3 linked regions of the Homo sapiens genome follow. The protein of the gene in region 1 interacts with the protein of each later gene in a pairwise test. Each region holds a gene or a part of one and is shown on either strand. Other genes may lie near its edges. The genes, in order: SPDYA, CDK16 and AQP1.

Region 1 (3,729 bases):
GAGTGTAGTGATGTGATCACAGCTCACTGTAGCCTCAACCTCCTCTGTTCAAGTGATCCTCCCACCTCAGCCTCCTGAGTAGCTGGCACTACAGGCACGTGCCACCATGCCCAGCTTTTTTTTTTTTTTTCTTTTTTTTTTTGTAGAGACTTCCTATGTTGCCCAGACTGGTGCTGGTCTCGGACTCCTGACCTCAAGCAATCCTCCCACCTTGGCCTCCCAAAGTGGTGGGGTTACAGATGTAAATCACTGCACCTGGCCCAAATGCATTTTGACTTAATGATATCTTCAAGTTACAAGAGTTTATTGGGACATAACTCCATTGTAAGTCAAAAAGTCTCGATATATAAATTTTCTCTCTGCATCCAATGAATTACCAGCTTATCTGGTTGTTCTTTCATAATATTTTGTTTCTTTCTTTGTTTGTTTGAGATGGAGTTTTGCTTGTTGCCCAGGCTGGAGTGCAATGGTGCGATCTCAGCTCACTGCAACCTCCATCTCCTGGGTTCAGGCAATTCTTGTGCCTCAGCCTTCCCAGTAGCTGGGATTACAGGCATGCTCCACCATGCCCAGCTAGTTTTTGTATTTTTAGTAGAGACAGGGTTTCACCATGTTGGTCAGGCTGGTCTCGAACTCCTGACCTCAGGTGATCCACCTGTCTCAGCCTCCCAAAGTGCTGGGATTACAGGCGTGAGCCACCGCGCCCGACCTGTCTGCTCATTTTCTACGATTAATCACCTTATATATGTATTACTATGAAAGCTCTGATTTAACAGTTTTTTCCTCCAGTTAAATTCTCATAGACACCACTAACAGATTAACTTAAAATACCTTTTACATGACCATAGAAACTTCAGAAGTTCCCACTGCCTCTGAAAATATGAAGTTCAAAATGAAAGCCTCCCACAATCGCAGAACTATATACTATGTATACCTAAATTTCCCTCTAGAACAACCAAGTCAACAGATAAAACAATACATGACCCTTGGCTGGGCATGGTGGCTCACGCCTGTAATCCCAGCACTTTGGGAGGCTGAAGCGGGCAGATCACTTGAGGTCAGGAGCTCGAGACCAGCCTGGCCAACATGGTGAAACCCCATCTCTACTAAAAATAGAAAAATTAGCCAGGCGTGGTGGTGGTGCATGCCTGTAATTCCAGCTACTCCAGAGACTGAGGCAGGAGAATTGCTTGAACCTGGGAGGTGGAGGTTGCAGTGAGCTGAGACTGCACCACTGCACTCCAGCCTGGGTGACAGAGCTAGATGCCATCTCAAAAAACAAAAACAAAAACATGATCCAGTGTAGGTTTAAAGACATCAGGAAAGTTTTAGTGACTATTTACTGGGTATAAAAGGTAGGGCCTCTGGAAGGCATTGGGATGACAGTTTTCGGTCAGTCTCAAATCTTTAGTTTACAGGACAGCCAGACATAGACATAGAAGGCTAACATTAGAAGGTATCTGTCCCATAAACCAGACTGTAAACATACTTATTGTTTGGAGGAAGGCTGAAGAAAGAGCTTAAGCTGGGCCTTGATTGACTAGAATGGACAACTACCAAAGAAAAAGAAGAGAAATAGAAGAAAACTACACACACACACACACACACACACACACACACACACACACACACACACACAAAGGGAAGTGAGGGGAAATGAATGGATACTGTTAAAAAGGTCTTGTTCAATTCAACATCTACTGAGCACCATGTGCCAAACAGAAACAATGTATTCTCCATGAAACAGGAGCCAAGGGCAGAACTTTTCTTGGCTCTTAAGCCAGCCCCTTCTCAAAGTAGACAATTGGGGATTGACACAAAATAGGCATTCAAAGCATTAAATGAATAACATAATTTCATTACTAGCTAAATAGAAGGGTAGAAGAAAAGGGAGTATTCCATGATGGAATTAAAAAATGGACTTCAGGCCACGTGCAGTGGCTCATTCCTGTAATCCCAGCAGTTTGGGTGGCTGAGTCGGGTGGATCACCTGAGGTCAGGAGTTTGAGATCAGCCTGGCCAACATGGTGAAACCCTATCTCTACTAAAAATACAAAAATTAGCCAGGCGTGGGAGCGTGTGTCTGTAATCCCAGCTACTTGGGAGGCTAAGACAGGAGAATTGCTTGAACCTAGGAGGTGGAGGTTGCAGTGAGCCAAGACCATGCCATTGCACTCCAGTCTGGGCAACAGAGCGAGACTCTGTCTCAAAACAAACAAACAAACAAACAAACACTTCAGAGCTTCTATATAGTCATGCGCCACATAATGACATTTCACTCAAGGTGGGACTGCATACAGGATGGTGTTCCCCTAAGATTATAATGGCTGGGCATGGTGGCTCACACCTGTAATCCTAGAACTGTGGGAGGCCGAGGCAGGTGGATGGATCACTTAAGGTCAGGAGTTTGTGACCAGCCTGGCTAACATGGTGAAACCCTGTCTCTTAAAAAAATACAAAAATTAGCCGGGCGTGATGGCACATACCTGTAATCACAGGTACTCGGGAGGCTGAGACCGGGGAATTGCTTGAACCTGGGAGTTGGAGGTTGCAGTGAGCCAAGATCGTGTCACTGCACTCCAGCCTGGGCAACAGAGCAAGACTCTGTCTCAAAAAAAAAAAAGAAAAAGAAAAAGAAAAGAAAAGAAGAAGGATGGAAGGAAAGATTATAATGGAGCTGAAAAATTCCTATCACCTACTGACATCATAGACCTGTACTGCAACACAGTACCTTTTCTATGTTTAGATACACACATACTTACCATTGTCTTATAAATGCGAATGGTAGTTAGTACAGTAACATGCTATCCAGGTTTGCAGTCTAGAAGTAGTAGGCTATACCATATAACCTAGGTGTGTAGTAGGCTATACCACCTAGGTTTGTGTAAGTACACTATGTAATGTTCACACAATGATGAAACTGCCCAACTATGCATTTAACAGAATGTACTGCCACTGTTAAGCAATGTATAACTGTATCTGGAAATGTTATAAAAGCTATAAAGGCATCATTATTATATAAATGTTCAGCTAGTTACATACAGAAATATACCACCAGAATACTCTGCTCCTGATTCAATCACTTGTCTAAATGCAGCCAGAGTGATTTTCAAAACACAGATCTAAACATGTCACCCCTTACTTAAATTCTTCAATGGAATCCCATTTTTCTTAGGATACACCAATTCCTTCACGGGCATATGAGAACTTGCATGGCCTCATCCCCATCTATCTATCCAGTCTTTTCCACTCTACCCCAGCATCACTTTTTATTCCCATTTTCCCTGCTGTAGTTAATTCCTACTTAGCATTCAGTTCTCAGCTCAATTGTCACTTGCTAGGGCAAAGTCCCCCATTATGGTTACTCATAGTACCTTGTACTTCTTTGGGGGGAATTTATAACAGTTTTAGTTTTACATCTGTGTGATTAATGTCAAGCTCTATCATAGACTATAAACTCTAAAAAGGCAGAGATTTTACTTTAAAATGTCCTACGTTCTATAATATGTTATTTAATAAAAAATTTACACACATGTATAATTTTAAATACTTCTAGCCTAAGAGATAAATCTAGGAATGGTAGCATTTACCCTCCAAGGCATTACTATTTTACAGCCCATAAAACAGGCCGGGCATGGTGGCTCCACACCTATAATCCCAGCACTTTGGGAGGTCAAGGCAGAAGGACTGCTTGAGCTTCGGAGTTTGAGACCAGCCTGGGCAACATGA
Region 2 (3,500 bases), on another chromosome or scaffold:
GGTGGGGCAGGGAGGAAGACAAGGGGCTATACCTACCTGAGTCAGGCATCGACGAAGACCGAAGGCTGGCCTCCTTTTGTAGCTGAATCTCCTTTAGTGCAAATATGGAAGTAGCTACAGATGGGGGAGACATAGAAGTGGGGGATGACCCATGAGGTCATCTAGGACCAGCCCCATATGACCCCATGGGAAGAATTAGAAAAAGCTGCCCCTTCTCTGAGAGGCTTGACCTTTATCTGTCAAACAATTCCATACACAAACCAGCTACAACCAGGGAAGATGAAATATAGACTATTACATGACACAAAGAAATCATTATTAACTTTGTCAAGTGAATTATGGTATTGCAATTACCACCTGTTAAGTCTAGGTGATGGGTGGTGTTTGGGGTTTGCTTTATATATTAATCCAGTGGGAAGATAGGGAAAGTGAGCAAATGTTTTTTGTAGGTTTGATAATAATATTGTTGTTTTAAAAAAATCTTTTATAGGTATATGCTGAAATTATTTAAGGATAAATGCTATGATGTCTGGGATTGGATGTGATTCAAAATAATCAGAGAGAATATAGATAAAACCAGATTGACCATGAATTGATGACTCACTGGAGTACTTAGGGACTCATCATATTACTTTGACTAATATATAAATACATATATTTGAAAATATCCATATTAAAAAGTTTTTAAAAGCCAGATATAAAAAGAACATCACATGTGATTCTATTTCTATAAAGTACAAGGACAGAAAAAACTTATCCTTGCTGTTAGAGGTCAAAACAGTGGCCACCCTTTGGGAAGGGGCTGGGAATAACTGAAGGAGATGCAAGGGAGCTGGGGGTGGGGAGCTTTTAACATTCTGTTTCTTGACTTTTGTGCTAGTTACAAGGATGTGTTTCATTTATGAAAATTCATTGTATAGTATACTTATGATTTGTGCATTTTTTAGCACATGTAAGGAAATGTCTACTTTAAAAAAAGTAAAGTGCTATTGCATATATTTTTATGTATGTTTTAAATTTTTCATGAAAGGTAAAAGGAACTGAAAACTAAAAAATGTTTTCATAACAAATACAACCCATCACACACGTGAACAAGATGTCCCCCCACGTAGAGGTGGCACAGCCAGAATCCTACACAACCCGCCAGCTGGCCCCAGCAGTCCTGTTTCCCAGTCCCCACGCTGGCCGGTCCATTCCCCAGCTCCACTCACTGTCAGGAAGTTTGTGGATCCGCTCCCCCAGACTGAGGAAGAATGGATGTTTCATGGCATCCTCTGCGGAGATCCGATTTCGACCCTCAAACTGAGTGGGGGTGCGGGGAGGGGGATAGTATTGATATCTTCAACAAGTAGGTCTCTCTGCCCACCTCAGACCCTGCCCCTGGTTTGAGGGGGGGGGTCCCTGTTTCCCCACACTTGGAATCCCATACCCCCAAGGCTGACCCAAGGTGGTCTCACCTGCAACAGCTTGGTGAGGAGGTCGGCCCCGTCGCTATCAAGTCTGCCACAAGGACAAAGAGACCTGATTTAAAATGAGTTTGGACACTCTGGCCCCTAACGCCCACCCACCCACCAGCCTCACCGGGGTGCGTGGCTCAAAAGGGCCTCGGCTCGGTACTTGGGGTAGTTGTATGTCTTGAACTCCTCGTTGGACAGGATGCCTGGCCACGTCTCCTCAGTTGGGGTTCCTAGTAGGGAAGAGGAGTTATCCCAAACATTTCACAGGTCCTCCCCGTGTGTCTCCACAGCGCCTAGGGCCCATGCCTCCTCACCTAAGATACGGAAGATGAAGTGTAGCTGTTCCTCCACCGTGGAGCCCGGAAAGAGGGGACGGCCTGTGGCCATCTCATAGAAGATGCAGCCCACACCCCTGGGCAGGGAGGGCACAGTGAATAGAAAGGCAGCTGGCTGGGTGGCTGTTGTGACCAAGCCACCCCCTTTACCACATGGCCCCTGCCACACTTCCACCTGTCCTTACCACATGTCAATCTGAGTGGAGTAGTCCGTGGACCCAAGCAGGATGTCAGGGGGCCGGTACCACAGTGTCACCACCTCATTGGAGTATGTCTTTGTTGGGATTGACTTGGCTCGGGCCAGGCCTGGAAATCAGAGAAAGGACAGCTAGAATGAGGGAGTCATGGGCAAAGTCTCGGGGAGAGTGCAGTTGAGACTGAGGGTGTCCTAGGCAAAATCTGGCAAGGCTGAAGGGAAGTGAGACTAAGTGGTCATGGGAAAGTAGGAGGCTGGGGAGCCAATAAGAAAGGGGAGGCCAGTGGTACCAAAGTCAGCCAGCTTGAGCTCTCCCCTCTCGTTGATGAGCAGGTTCTGGGGCTTGAGGTCTCGGTGTAGCACCTTCTGCCGGTGGCAGTAGGCCAGGCCACGGAGCAGCTGGAACAGGAACAGCTGGGGACCCAGGAATGGCAGGCAGAGGTCAAAGACTATCCACTAGCCCGACCCCCAGCAGGCACTGCTCCCCTCCCAAACACAGACACTAGGCCCAGAGCCTTGTCACACAAAAGAGGACAGGGTCCCAGTGCCCTCCAAGGGCTCCTAGCAAAAAAAGCCAAAGGGAAAAGTCCGTTTCTGGGAGATTTGTGGGTTGGAGTGGGTGAGTGGGGGCCCCCTTGTGCCCCTGCTTCCTGCCCCACACCCACTTTCACGTTGTGCATGTTGATGATGTTCCCACAGTCATCCAGGTACTGCTTCAGGTCCTTGTCCTGAGGAAAGAAGAGGTGGTACAGGAATGAGGGTTACTTCCTATGGCTCCTGGCCTTCTCCTCACCTCCCCCTGGGACCTACTGCCACTCAACCTTACCAGGTACTCAAAGACAAGGGTGAGGGACTTCTCCGTGTGGATAATGTCATGTAGCGTAACGATGTTGGCGTGTTTGAGGTCCTTGAGCAGGGACACTGCAGGAAGCATGGGAGTGGGACAGGGGAAGAGTCAGGGTCCTACCCTCAGGACAGAGGTGAGGACAAGGACTAGAAAGGGACAAGCCCAGGTTTTCTTTCTTTCTCTAGACAGTTCAGGGTAATGCCTCGGAGCCACCAGCTCTAACCCGCCTCATGCCAGAAGAAAGTTGTGTCTCCATGTTGCAGATGTGGAAAATAAGACTCAGAGGAGAGTATGGAGCAAGAACCTGGGATTGCAGCCCCAGGCTCATGTGACACTAGATTTTCACAACCTGTTTTTGGTTTCTGGGAAGGGGCCTGGCTCCAACCCTCAGTACATAGGCCTGCAGCATCGCGTGAAATCGAATTTGCACACTAAATTTCAGTGCAATTCAAATTCATTCCATGTGATATTCTGACTAGAAATTGTTACAGTAAATAAACTGGTGAGCACTTTCAGGGGTGTTCTCAGAACCAAACCCTGGTTTGCAATTCATCTACCTTTTATCCAAATGGGAACAGATTCCTGGTTACCCTGATTATTACCTGGATATGTGGGTGACAGGCATTCCCATGAAAGCCAGAGTGTTTTGGGGGGTCTTAGAACCA
Region 3 (3,729 bases), on another chromosome or scaffold:
TCCAAGGAAAACAGAGAAAGATGTGGCAGGAAGTGGTTGGGGTGAGTCAGGGGGTGTCCCTTCGGGACATGCTGGGGACAACTTTCTCCTGACTGACTCAGGGCTCAGGATATGCCCTAGAGAGACCGTGGGCCTCCGTCCAGCCTGCAAGGTCCCGGCTAGTTCTAAGAGCCAAATACCAATTTTGGCTAAGGGTGAGAGGCTCTGAGGCTGGGGTGGACACTCTCACCTGTCCCTGTCCTAGCTCAGCCACTAACACCATGTGGCATCACACAACAGACTGGCCTGTGTGGCCCTAGTTCCTGTCTATGAGATAGGGACATAGCAGGGTGTGGCTGGGCTCTGAGAAGTAGGAGATGCTGGTGGACTCAGGATTCCTGGCATTTGCTGGCTTTTTTCATTCTTCTGCTGTCTGGTCTGCTCAGCCGGCTCCCTGCAAGCATGACCAGGGACTGCTGGGTGCTCAATGCAGGGCTGGGTTAGCCCGGCTCCCTCCCGAGAGAAGCCCACAGCCCTAGGTCAAGATAAGCCAGTGCCCAGCTGCCTGTGATATGAAGCAGGAGGCAGATGCGATAAGAGGTGTCAGGGCGGGCCCGGGAACTTTTGAACTTAAGGGGTGGGAGGGCCAGGAAGGCATCAGGGAGGAGGTTTCGTAGGAGCCTGAATGTGGAGACACTGCAGAGGGAAGGGGCAGAGGGACTGTGTGAGCAAGCACAGGCTAGGAGGAGGTGAGGGCCGTGGTACGGGAGTTGTTGGGTATGGTCAGGCTGGGGGTGCATGGGAGGAGGGTGGTGAGGGCTCAGGATTCGGGCCAGGGGCTGCATCCGGGGGAAGGGGTCTGGATTCCCAGAGCCTGTGATTTCAGCCCGCTGGGCTCAGGCAGAGGGCAAAGCTACCCTCTTCGGGGTCTTCTCCCAGCCCTGCTAATTCCAGGCCTGACTGCTCAAGAAGTGTTTCTACCTGCAGCATCAGGGGCCTGACTGAAGCCCTAAGTTCTCCCCTTTATCCCGTTTTTCTGGGCTTCAGTTTCCCCAGTCATAGAGTGAGAGGCCTCTTCATGCCACCAGTTCTCCCGGGGGTGCTGCTGCCTCCTCCAGAGCTCAGGGGAGGGATGGGGAAAGGAAGGCAGAGTTTCCATGTCCCTGCCCAGCCCGTCCTGCCCAGGGAGGGGCTGGGGGCTGGGTGGTGATGCCACATCTGGGACATATAATTACTGTTTCCGCCAGCCCCAGATGAGGGGGAGGGCACAGAGATGGGGAGCTTTGTGGTGGAGACTTCCCTCACCATGGAAAATCCTGACGCTGCTTCCCCTTTAGGGACCTCAGAACAGCCCAGCCGGTCCCAGTGTTGCCCACCCTGATGCTTGGCCCTGACTGGGATTTGCCCTGGGAACTCTGAAGGGGCCATGCTTTGAGAGGGGACACGGCCTCCTGGGATACCTGTCTGAGGGGCTCACCCCCTGCTCACCACTCCCAGGCCACAGCCTCCTGTCACACCTTGCCTTCCCTTCTCCACCCCAGGCAACCTTCTAGCAGCATGAAGTGGCCATTAGCTCACTGCAAGCCAATTCCAGATGGTACCCCCACTTAGTCTAGGGCCCCCACCCAGCAGGGGCCATGGCCCTTACCTTCTGGAAGCACCAATGAGTCTGGAGTCTCCTGAGTGGCTGGGATCTGAGCCCTCACACCGGGAGGTGAAGGCAGGAAAATGCTGTCCGCGAGGCCCTGCAAGTGGCCAGGATCCCCTCAGTCAGGGCTTCCCCATGGGGATGAGAGGGGCTCCTTGCCCACATGGAGTGGTGCCCAGGGGGATCATGAGGGGCTGTCTTCACTCAGCCAGGAGCTACAGTTCTGTGGGGTGGGCAGACTCTGAGGCTGAAATCTCCAACTTAAAAGATATCCGGAAAGGCCGGAAAATGCCCCCGGCCCTTCCAGCAGCTCCTTTCAGTGCCTGCAATCTCGCTGTCAGGGCCCCTTGAAAGGCAGATTTCTACTCAGTGTAAAGAAGGTTGTTGTTGATATTGTTGTTGACACGAAGAAGGGGCTGTCTCTAAGTCAATAAGCTCCCTGCCATTAGGGGTGTGCAAGTAGATGCTTTCTGGTGAGGAGGCTGCTTTGGGGGTGCTAGTCTATGCGGGGGTCCAGTGGGGTGGGTGACAGGTTCTGCAGCATAGGCTTTGTGTCATGCTGAGATCAGCAATTCTGATGGCCTGCGGGGGATCCTGTGCTTAGGTTTCTGGATCTGGGGCTGGAGAGTGACCACCCCGATGTGAGGCAGGAGGCACTTTTGGAGACTGCGGGGGCTCGAATCTGGGCCAAGGCCTCCATTTTACTGATGGGGAAACTGAAGCCCACAGAGGCGTGGAGACTTGTCAAGGTGGCACTGCCTCCTAGCCCTTGATTATTCCTGCTGCTCCAAAGTGTACACACATGGCACAAACACAAACATGCACACACATGTGCTCTTACGTGGAGGACACACACACATGGTACACAAAGCACATTCTCAAGACTGGGTGGTCCCACTCAGACTCTGGGACCCAAGGAGGGTTGGGCGGGGATTCCTCAATGGAGCCTTTTCCTCTCCCTGCCCTGGAGTTAGGAAAAGAAGGAGGGAGGGAGGGAGGAAGCCATTGCTTTGTGTATTGTTTCTTGTCAGGAAGATGAAATGGCTTCTGGGAGCAAATAAAGGCCTTGTTGAGACCTGCTGCTTTCTCACATGGGGGGCTCATTTTTTTCTCTTCTCTTCCCTCTCTAGCTGGTAGTGGCAGCTATGTGGGTGTGTGACACAGGGAGACAGTGAGGCACCCAGAAGTGCCATCAGACATACCAGTGCAAACACACAGCACAGCCTCCAGGACCTCATGTCCTGCAGGGATGCCTGTATGATATAGCTGTTCCCAGGGAGGCCGAGGCACTTGGTCAGTACCTCATCAGTTGATGAAAAAGAGTGTGCATTCTCTAATTCAGGGGTACAGGGTTTTCATATTTTTCTGAAGTCAAGCTTGTTAATTATGGGGTTCAAACCCTCCCTGATCATGTTATTGGTAGTTTTCGGCTGCTTCATTTATTCTGTACATTTCTAATAGAAGATTGTTAACATTTTTCACTCTGGTGGTAGGGTGATCCAGTCCTCCTTGTAATTTTGTCAATTTTCCCCTCATTTATTTTTAGGCTATGTTGTTTGGTGCATACAAGTGGGGGATTTTTGCAGTTCCTTTATAGATTTTTATTTTTTTTTTTGAGACGGAGTCTCACTCTGTCGCCCAGGCTGGAGTGCAGTGGCACCATCTCGGCTCACTGCAAGTTCTGCCTCCCGGGTTTATGCCATTCTCCCACCTCAGCCTCCCGAGTAGCTGGGACCACAGGCCACCACACCCGGCTAATTTTGTTTTTGTATTTTTAGTAGAGACGGGGTTTAACCGTGTTAGCCAGGATGGTCTCGATCTCCTGACCTTGTGATCCACCCGCCTTGGCTTCTCAGAGTGCTGGGATTACAGGCGTGAGCCACCGCGCCTGGCCAGTTCTTTTATAGATTTTTAAAATGTAATTATTGTGTAATAAACCACTTACAATCTAACAAAAAAGAGAAAGAGGGAGTCAGCCCTGGACACATGTGGTCATCACAGACACAGCAGACACTTATCTACAAAGACACACAGAGGCACACAAAACCAGGAATCCCCCCATGTCCACGTGTGAACACCCATGGAGGAGTGACACTCTGGAG

Evidence for each region.
Region 2: the proteins of SPDYA (region 1) and CDK16 interact in a two-hybrid assay, tested with the Homo sapiens proteins (one study listed by IntAct).
Region 3: the proteins of SPDYA (region 1) and AQP1 interact in binary tests that used the Homo sapiens proteins (3 or more experiments, as listed by UniProt).

The regions. Positions count from the first base shown.
Region 1 is NC_000002.12:28,845,135-28,848,863, forward strand, and holds part of SPDYA (speedy protein A), read left to right. Parts: intron 1-3,729. UniProt on the Homo sapiens protein: Regulates the G1/S phase transition of the cell cycle by binding and activating CDK1 and CDK2.
Region 2 is NC_000023.11:47,225,181-47,228,680, reverse strand, and holds part of CDK16 (cyclin-dependent kinase 16), read right to left. Parts: intron 2,910-3,500; coding exon 2,815-2,909; intron 2,717-2,814; coding exon 2,654-2,716; intron 2,403-2,653; coding exon 2,279-2,402; intron 2,099-2,278; coding exon 1,978-2,098; intron 1,870-1,977; coding exon 1,772-1,869; intron 1,688-1,771; coding exon 1,582-1,687; intron 1,501-1,581; coding exon 1,458-1,500; intron 1,303-1,457; coding exon 1,212-1,302; intron 115-1,211; coding exon 37-114; intron 1-36. UniProt on the Homo sapiens protein: Protein kinase that plays a role in vesicle-mediated transport processes and exocytosis. Regulates GH1 release by brain neurons. Phosphorylates NSF, and thereby regulates NSF oligomerization. Required for normal spermatogenesis.
Region 3 is NC_000007.14:30,914,771-30,918,499, forward strand, and holds part of AQP1 (aquaporin-1), read left to right. Parts: intron 1-3,729. UniProt on the Homo sapiens protein: Forms a water channel that facilitates the transport of water across cell membranes, playing a crucial role in water homeostasis in various tissues.